2 linked regions of the Homo sapiens genome follow. The protein of the gene in region 2 purifies or fractionates together with the protein of the main gene of each other region. This does not show direct contact. Each region holds a gene or a part of one and is shown on either strand. Other genes may lie near its edges. The genes, in order: DUSP28 and CIMAP3.

What was found.
Region 1: the proteins of CIMAP3 (region 2) and DUSP28 purify together in Homo sapiens (affinity purification with mass spectrometry; 2 studies listed by BioGRID and IntAct, with this or other methods). This does not show direct contact.

What each region holds. Positions count from the first base shown.
Region 1 is NC_000002.12:240,558,544-240,563,367, forward strand, and holds the start of DUSP28 (dual specificity phosphatase 28), read left to right. Parts: upstream 1-1,813; 5' UTR 1,814-2,141; coding exon 2,142-2,534; intron 2,535-2,786; coding exon 2,787-2,924; 3' UTR 2,925-4,824. Other genes in the region: ANKMY1 (ankyrin repeat and MYND domain-containing protein 1), read right to left, coding at 2,188-2,407. UniProt on the Homo sapiens protein: Has phosphatase activity with the synthetic substrate 6,8-difluoro-4-methylumbelliferyl phosphate (in vitro).
Region 2 is NC_000001.11:111,345,346-111,349,421, reverse strand, and holds the start of CIMAP3 (ciliary microtubule-associated protein 3), read right to left. Parts: upstream 2,801-4,076; 5' UTR 2,770-2,800; coding exon 2,751-2,769; intron 2,513-2,750; coding exon 2,373-2,512; intron 1,749-2,372; coding exon 1,650-1,748; intron 907-1,649; coding exon 776-906; intron 1-775. UniProt on the Homo sapiens protein: During primary cilia disassembly, involved in cilia disassembly. Required specifically to control cilia retraction as well as the liberation and duplication of the basal body/centrosome.

The sequences.
Region 1 (4,824 bases), on a different chromosome or scaffold from region 2:
TCCAGGCTACAGAGCGCATTTCAGGAACTGGACTGGGATGTACAGAGGCACCATGGTGGGAAACAGCTGGGCCTTCCTGCAAAGAGGGGAGAGGCTCTTGGAGGTGCAGGGCTTGCGTTTTCTCAACCCAGACTGCCTCTGAGAACAGGGCAGGGGGTGTGAAGAGCTGATGCCCTGGCCCTCCCCACTGGCTAGCTTTCCGGGGACTAAGGACTAAGGCTGGGCCAGGATTCTGGGGTTCTAGGGGCTCTGCCTCCACACGCCAGTGCCTGTCTGTTGAGTTCACTTCTCTCTAAAATCTCATTTTACACCACGACCCAGTACAAACCACTCAGAAAAATGTTTCATTAAAAGTTCGGCATACTACATGCATGCACTCTAATATTTTCATGTAGTCTATTATTTCTCTAAAAACTAAAATGCTGATCATGACCCACAGAATTGATTTCACAACCCACATTAGTTGTGAATTACAACTTGCTAAGGAGTCAGAACCAACATGTAGAAACCCTCTGTTCTTAGCAAGCACATTCTGGTTACACTGTGGGGGACTAGCACCAAGTCCAGGAGACAGAGGCTGGCCCAGACTAAGTGTGGCAATGAGATGCAGAGACACTTAGGATGAATTGGTTCCCAATCCATTACCTCAATGGAGTGGGAGCATGATGGTTCAAGTAGCAGGCTTTGGAGCAGAAAACCCACCTCAACCATCCTCCAACCGTAAAGGGTGATGATGATTCATGAAACAGTCCAGGAGGAGGAGGGACTTCAGGTTTTGTTTGATTCATTTCAGTGGCCCAACAGTGGCATCAAGGACCTTGGCTCTCCCATCTCCTCTGCTTTCACCCAAGGCTGGCTTCCCCTTATGGCCATGAGAGAACAGAGGAGCCTTCCAAAGTGCTCTCTCCTTCATGGGTTATTAGACACCAAGCTCATTCCCAGAGCAGTCACGGGAGTGTGGCCTTCACTTTTGGCCAGAGACAGAGCCAACTCCTAGAAAGCGGAGGGAGACAGTGTCCCAACCTAATCAATGGCTCCCATGAACGCCAGGGAAAAAAAGGGAATTCCACTCCTCCATCCTAGGAAAGTTGGAGTCCTTCCTTAGGGTGGAGGAAGTGGGAAACAGATGCTGATAAGACCTCCACGGAGGTGATGTCTGGAGCTGCAACCAGGGAAGACCTGGCTGCAGACATATTTGAGTCTTTAGCTCAAGAGTGAACCCCAGGCTGCAATAAAGATCTGACAGTTACCAATGCTAGAAGGCTGATGGACAAAGCAATGACGATAACCCAGAGAGAGACTGTATGCAACTGAAACTTCAATTGCTAAATGTCTGTAGGGCTGTTGAGACAGTTGCTTTTCAGTGTATCCATTGCCTGAAAATTACCAGATGTCAGAAAAATTGAAGGAGTCTTAAATGGCAATTTCATGGACATTAAGTGATATTAAATTTTTTAAAGTTACAATGCTGACCCCAATAAATTACTTAGAAACAGCAAAAGGAATAGTGTGGTCTATGAAGAAGTGATGAAAATAGAAATTAGTTTTATTTTATGAGCCATGTGTTATAATACATAGAAAAAAATGCACCAATTACAAAGCGGGCCACAAAAAGGAATAAACGTAAAGCCGACAACGCAGTCACTAGGGAAAGGGTGAAGACACGGGAACCACGCAGCCCGCCGTCCACGTGCACCGGGTAGCCACGGGGCCCTAGCCGAACGACGCGGACGCGAAGTGGGCGGGCCCGGCCAAGCCACGCCTCCGCGCCAGACGCCGCAGTAGAGCGGGCAGGGCGCTGCGCCCAAGAGCCACAGACGCAAGCCCAGTGCCACAGGCCGCGGGGGCGGGGAGGACGGCGCCCGGGGACAGAGAACATGGGACGCAGAGCGGTCCAAGGCCCCGGCGCCCTGGTGAGGCCCAAACCTCCCGCCATGCCCCGGCCCCAACGAGACCCAAGCCCCCTGTCCCGGCCCAGCGCCCGCGGGGGACCCAAGCCCCAGCCTGGTCCACCTCGGAGGCCTCTAGGACCCGGGGGCGCCCGGCGGCCCGCCCGGCTCCCACAAATAGACTCCTGGGCGGGCGCCTGAGCCCCCAAAATAGATCCTCAGGGCCCAAAAGCAGACTCTTCGGCGGGCGCCATGGGACCGGCAGAAGCTGGGCGCCGCGGGGCCGCCTCGCCCGTACCTCCACCGTTGGTGCGCGTCGCGCCCTCACTCTTCCTCGGGAGCGCGCGAGCCGCGGGCGCGGAGGAGCAGCTGGCGCGCGCGGGAGTCACGCTGTGCGTCAACGTCTCCCGCCAGCAGCCCGGCCCGCGCGCGCCCGGCGTGGCAGAGCTGCGCGTGCCCGTGTTCGACGACCCGGCTGAGGACCTGCTGGCGCACCTGGAGCCCACGTGCGCCGCCATGGAGGCCGCGGTGCGCGCCGGCGGCGCCTGCCTAGTCTACTGCAAGAACGGCCGCAGCCGCTCGGCCGCCGTCTGCACCGCGTACCTCATGCGGCACCGCGGCCTCAGCCTGGCGAAGGCCTTCCAGGTGGGCGGGCCTTTAGGGGGGCGGTGTTTCGAGAGGGGCGTGTCTTCCGGGGACGAGTTTTCCGGGCGGGGCCGGCTTCGGGATTGGGACAGGCACTTCCGGGAGGGGCGGGTCTCTCTCGTGAGGGCGGGCTTAGGGAAGCAGAGAGGCACTTCCGGGTTGGGCGGGGCCCACTCTTACAGCTGGGCCCGCCTTGGCCCCTGCTGGCCATTAGCGCGACTTGGGGTTATTCAGTACACTTCTTGTTTGCAGATGGTGAAGAGCGCTCGCCCGGTAGCAGAACCGAACCCGGGCTTCTGGTCTCAGCTCCAGAAGTATGAGGAGGCCCTCCAGGCCCAGTCCTGCCTGCAGGGAGAGCCCCCAGCCTTAGGGTTGGGCCCTGAGGCTTGAAGCTTGAAGGCCTGCTGCCTGGAGGAAGGATGTCCCTGCACTGATACAGAAGGCTGGTCTTTACCCTTCTTCCTCACTGTCATATCGAGTTTTCCTTTGTGTGTGTGTGTGTGAAACATAGTGCTTTTAATTTTATATTTCCGGCTGAGGTGATGCACAAATTATCTTACAGACACAAAAAGAAATACATTTGGTAAAACATCGAAGACAAATTAAGAAAAAGCAAATAGGGATCCTCCATTATTTACACTCCAGAATCTTGAGTGTTTGGGGGTGCCGGCGCATTCTACCAGTCTCAGGGAAGGACATGAGTACAGACTACAGTAATCAGAATCTGAGTCATAGGTGAAATCAGGAAAAGCAACTCTTCTTGTGTTTATTTTTAGTAGTGTCATAAGAACGGACTAGTTCTTCCTGCGTGACCACGGATGCTTCTGTTTGAGAAAATGCATACCCACGTGGGACATTTAGATCAAGAAAGCTGTTGATGAAGACATTGTTGAAGGGCAACTTGGGTGATTGGGGAATTATTCTCTTCATCAGCCCCTCTGCAATACAGCTGGAGCTGTCCCATAGGAGTTCGGACAATTACGGACATCCTTTTTCTTTCTCTCTTTCTTTTTTTTTGTTTGTTTGTTTGAGACAGAGTCTCTGTTGCCCAGGCTGGAGTGCAGTGGCGCAATCCCGGCTCACTGCAACCTCCGCCTCCCTGGTTCAAGTGATTCTCCTGCCTCAGCCTCCTGAGTAGCTGGGACTACAGGTGTGTGACACCAGACCCGGCTAATTTTTTGTATTTTTAGTAGAGATGGGGGGTTTCACCATGTTAGCCAGGATGGTCTCAAACTCCTGACCTCGTGATCCACCCACCTCAGCCTCCCAAAGTGCTGGGATTACAGGCGTGAGCCACCGTGCCCAGCCTCCTTTTTCTATTACTAGAGAACTCCAGGACATTAAGAATTTCAAAAGTGATTTTTTCACCCATGGCTTCTACGGTGACAGAGTATGGTGTTCCTGTAGGGAAACAAAGCCAAGTTTTTTTGCTCCTTTCACTAAAGCTGCTTCATCCGGGGAGGAAGCCTGGTAGATTATAATATTTCCAGGGATAACAGTGTGGCACACAGATAACAGGGTAAGAAATTGGTCTATATAGTTTTCTGTGGGATGGCCATTCTCAATGTTCTCCAATAAACTGGGGTAATTAAAATATCAGGGCTCGGATGGAAGGTGTTGCACCATAAATGACACCTGCAGTGGTACTTGTTAAATGTCTTAACATTGCAAGTGAGGGTTCCCATTTTATCAGAAAATAGAAATTTTACCTGCCCAAGTTCTTCACTGAGATTGAATGTGCTGGCCATGGTGTGGACACTATTTACTTTATAATGCACATCTTGATCCCAGTTTATAAACTGGGCCTGAATATATTTCACAATTTCCATAGTGACCAGCAGACTAATGGGGATGAGGTACTGTTATAAGATGATGAACACCAGTATGTCAAACACAATGCTGTGAGCTGGAATCCTCTTTCAGGTACCAAATGTCACCATACTTTTTATTCCATAGCACGGCTCCCACGCAGCTCACTACAGACATGACCAGAGCAGCAGGAACCAAAGGGAGACCCGCCCATTGTCACTTTCTTAATCTCTGATCTCTTGAGGTGATTTGACAGAATTCTGCAGGAATTTGGTTTCAAAGCCAGTGTAAACAACTATGCCAGTGATCCACTGAGCATTTCTTTTTTTTTTTTCTTGAGACGGAGTCTCACTCTGGTGCCCAGGCTGGAGTGGGCGCCATCTTGGCTCACTGCAAGCTCCGCCTCCCGGCTTCATGCCATTCTCGTCCTTCAGCCTCCTGAGTGGCTGGGATTACAGGCGCCCGCCACCACGCCTAGCTA
Region 2 (4,076 bases):
TTGGCCTGCAAGGCCTATGTGCTCCAGCATGCCCTCCATTTCTGTCTCATTTCCTACTTGCTCACTACACTCTAGCCATGGCAGCATGCCTTTTTGTTCACGTCAAATTCCTTCCCAATTTATAGCCTTTGCACTTGCTGTTCCTTCTGCTGGGAATGCTCGGTCCCCAGATCTTCACAGGGCTGGCTCAGTCTTGTCATTTAGATCTCAGGTTAACTGTCATTTCTTCAACCCTTTCTAAAGTAGACTCCAGGCCATCACTCCCTATCACATTGTCATCCTGTTTTACCTTCTTTGTAGCCTGGACAACCTACTTCCTGGTTTGTCCATGACAGTCCCTACCTTATGGGTACTGTCTTGGTAGAATTATTAATAGGCCCCCTTTTACTCTCAGAAGTGTCATCGTTTGACTAACAAATTATATGGTCACTCTATCACTATTGATATTTTCTTGTGTATTTGCCTGTGCTCTGTCTGGACTCTAGAATGTAAGCCCCAAGAAATCAGGAGCCTTGTGTGATGGATTTAGTGCAAAAATCTATCGAACCTACAAAACTACCTGGCATGTTAATAAAAATTCATTGAATGAGTAACTATGATTCTACATTCTACAATGCCAGAAATCTGTGAGACAATTGATTAAATCTCTGAATGGTTCCTTATTTAACTGCGATGGTTTGGATGTCATCCCTTCTTTATGTGCTTCTTTTATTACGTACTTCTTTTCCTCCTATTGCTTTTTTTGTTGAAGTGCACCAAAAGGGAGGAGACATACCTGGGATAGTAAGTGTCCTTTGGGTAGTTCTTAAATCGAGGCACCAAGACATTAAATGGAGCAAAATTTTGTTTGTGTTTTTCCTGCTGAGGACTTACTTTCTGGTACCTGCCTGCATGAGGTGTCATTTCCTGTTTCCAAGAAAAAGATCATTATGTTACAGAGTGATATGTATATATATACACATAAAGCCTTCCAGGTAGAAAAAACAGAATCATCCTCTTTCTGTTCATAAATCAGCTATGGTTCAGCCACCTCAAGCTACAGAAATAAGTCTTCGGTAGGTAGAAAACCGAGATACGGGTGTGGTTCAGCTACCTAGTGATACGTAATATATAGGTTGTAGAAATAAATCTAGGATGGGTAGAGAACCAAGGCAACTTATCACGGCCACTATGCTTAACACCTCACTGAGAGATTTTTAGAGATAGTATCTCTGCTCCCTAAGCTCAAGTGTCAGGAAAATGTCGTCCAATAAGAGATTAGGATCCCCTACTGAACTTTAGACTTGCAACCCAATCACACAAAAGGGTGGAAAAGTTGGAATTTGTTATTTAACTGACAAGACAATATAATGTATATAAACACAAGCTTCGAATGTTTAACCTCAGGCATCTCAACACTAAAGCCCTGTGTTGGGACCATTTCTTCAGTAAATTGTTTTCCACTCTCCCCGGTACACTCACACGCATATTTGCAATGTTAATGCCCAAGCTTTTCAGATAGGCTTCTTAATAGCTTTTGCTTAAATGCCTACTTTTCTTTAATTTCAGGGCATATTCTTTTAGATCACCCCCCTCTTGCTCTCTGCCCTTTGCACTCCTGTGCAAATGCATGCAACAACGTGGATAACACTAAAATCCCAGCACATTACCTTCTGTATTGGCTTAAACCTCACAGCTGTTCTGGCTCCCAAAGTATATCCTTTTATACTGGTTGGGATCTTAGATAAGTCGTATGCCAAGCCATATCCCTTTGGGTGGTATATTAAAAAACAAACAAAAACACCAAAAAAAAAAAAAAAGAAAGAAAAAACAACGCATAGTCAGAGAACATCAGGGCCATCGAAATGGAGTGAGCTTAGTGTGTTCCCATCTGAACCTTCTCTGCAAGGGATTATTCTTTATTGTCTTGACTCCTTTGAGGTCAAGACCATAGAATTACACAAGTAATACAGGTAACTTTGTAGAGGGGTGTGGCTGGATACGTAGACTATAGGACATTGCCATATATTCAAATGCATCAGTCTTCGGAGCCCCACAGAGCTGAACTTACTCTAATGCAACTGTCAGCCTGAGGTTTGGAGGAATGGGAGGGTAACTGGCACTGGCTCAGAGGCCTTTGGAAGTGAGGAAGGAGTAGGGATTTTATGAAGCTAGGGCTTGCGTTTAATGGAGGTGCAAGGCGGGGAGCAATAATCCTTTAATCTCTGGCATTGGCTGAAACAGCTGCTTGCAGAAGAACAGAGCGCTTTCTTATGCTGGGACTCTGGAGATCTCAAGTCCCACAGAATTTTTTCTTTTACGAAACTTGGAAACTTGGCTATCCCTCAATAGCCGGGGAACTGAGGAGCATCTAAGGGGAGGTGAATACTCACATCTGAAAAATAACACCCAGGCCCTCTGTGGGGTGATCCCCTAAGAGGGACAAACTTGTTCCCAATCAAATTCGGGGGATGGAAGTGAGGAAAAAGTTTCCTCTGTTGACATGTTCCAAAAGGGTAGTTATCCGCAGCGTCTAAAATAAAGAGGAGAGGCTCCACGTGAGGGACGGCACCTGGGTCTACGTGAGCGCGTTCCGGGAGGGGAAGGTCGGGGAGACTGAGCAGAGGACAGGGCCCAACCGTGCGCTTACAAAACCACGCCAAACTCCTGGAGGGGGGCGAACTGCACTTCCTCCCACTTCGTCTTTCCCAGCTTCCCCACCCTTCCCCCTACCTGCCCTCTACTCTAGGCTTCTCGGCAGCCCTCCTCACCTGCTCTGCTGAAGCACATCGCGAGCTGCTAGGGCTAGCACTTGTGTACTGCGTTGCCAAGGAAACGAAGGCTAGTCCCGTGATTCCCAGCTGCGGAGCGCGGGGAGGGGGAGAGGGCCCGAGCGCGCCTGCGCGGCAAGTTGGGGCGTCCACCGAGCCACTACTGGGGCAGGAACCCGCACCTTGGAGCCCAAAGCCCAGGGGATTGTAAACTCAGTAGCTGGGCTGCGGGTAGAGGGTTTCCTGGATTCGCGGCTGTAGGGGCTGCAGGGTTGACGGGGCGGCAAATAGCTTTGGAAGCTGGGCCAAGAGGAATGCGCTGTTGTAGAGGGAAGGACAGTGAGGTTCAGAATGTCCCGAAGTCTGGGCCACCAGCAAGTAAGGTGAAAGTAGAAAGACAGCCGCTGCAGCGTACCGGGGTGGACTCCCTGGGCAACGCCCCAGCAGAGGAGTAGGGGGCGGAGTTGAGCTGACAGCTAGTTCCATATTAGGCCCTTAGACCATTTTTCCTTTTCCTCAAGCCCCTCCAATCAGGTTGCCCATTCTATCCCGGGGGGCCGTGGGGAGGGGGCGCGAGGTTTTAAAAGAACTGGAGGCCTTGCGTGGACCGGGTAGAATGCCACGGAATCAGAGAAGACTCTAATAGTTTTTTTTTTAGAAGTTGGGGCAGTCAAATTTCTAAGCCCCAGTTTTCTCATCTCTAAATTGGGAATAAAAATTCCTCTATATAGGATTGTTGAGAGGATCAAGATGACGGGATTAAAACAGTTCAGAACGTGGTACTTGGTGGGTGACATACGACAGGTTATTATCACTGAAGATAATAATAACCGAAGAAAAAAAGATCAGAGTGTGTTTTGTCTTTTTTGCCTTTGTCATGGATATTAACACTAGCTTGTTTTCACTCGATTTTTAGGATGGCTTTAGGAGTTGTCCAGGTGTTAGAGGTTAACAGAACACCCAGTGTGACTGGTCCATACTTTGACCCTTTACAGGTGATGACCCTGGAATCCACACATACTCCGCGTTAGGACAGCCTTCAGGGATGATTTTTATAGATCTAAGGTAGACTTTCCAAAAAAGGTGACAGTGACTCCCAGAGGGTGTTTTGGAAATTTGTGGAAGAATTTTTGCTTGTTAAAAATTGTTGGGGTGTTGTTCCTGGTCAACAGGCTAGGGAGGCTAGACATCCTACACTGCATTGCCCAGGCATACAGTGAGTTGTCCCATGTCCCACATGACATTCAAATATGTCCTGTTGGACTCTACAAAAATAATTAGTAGTAGTTATATACATTAACATTGTGAAGAAATTTATAGGAAATA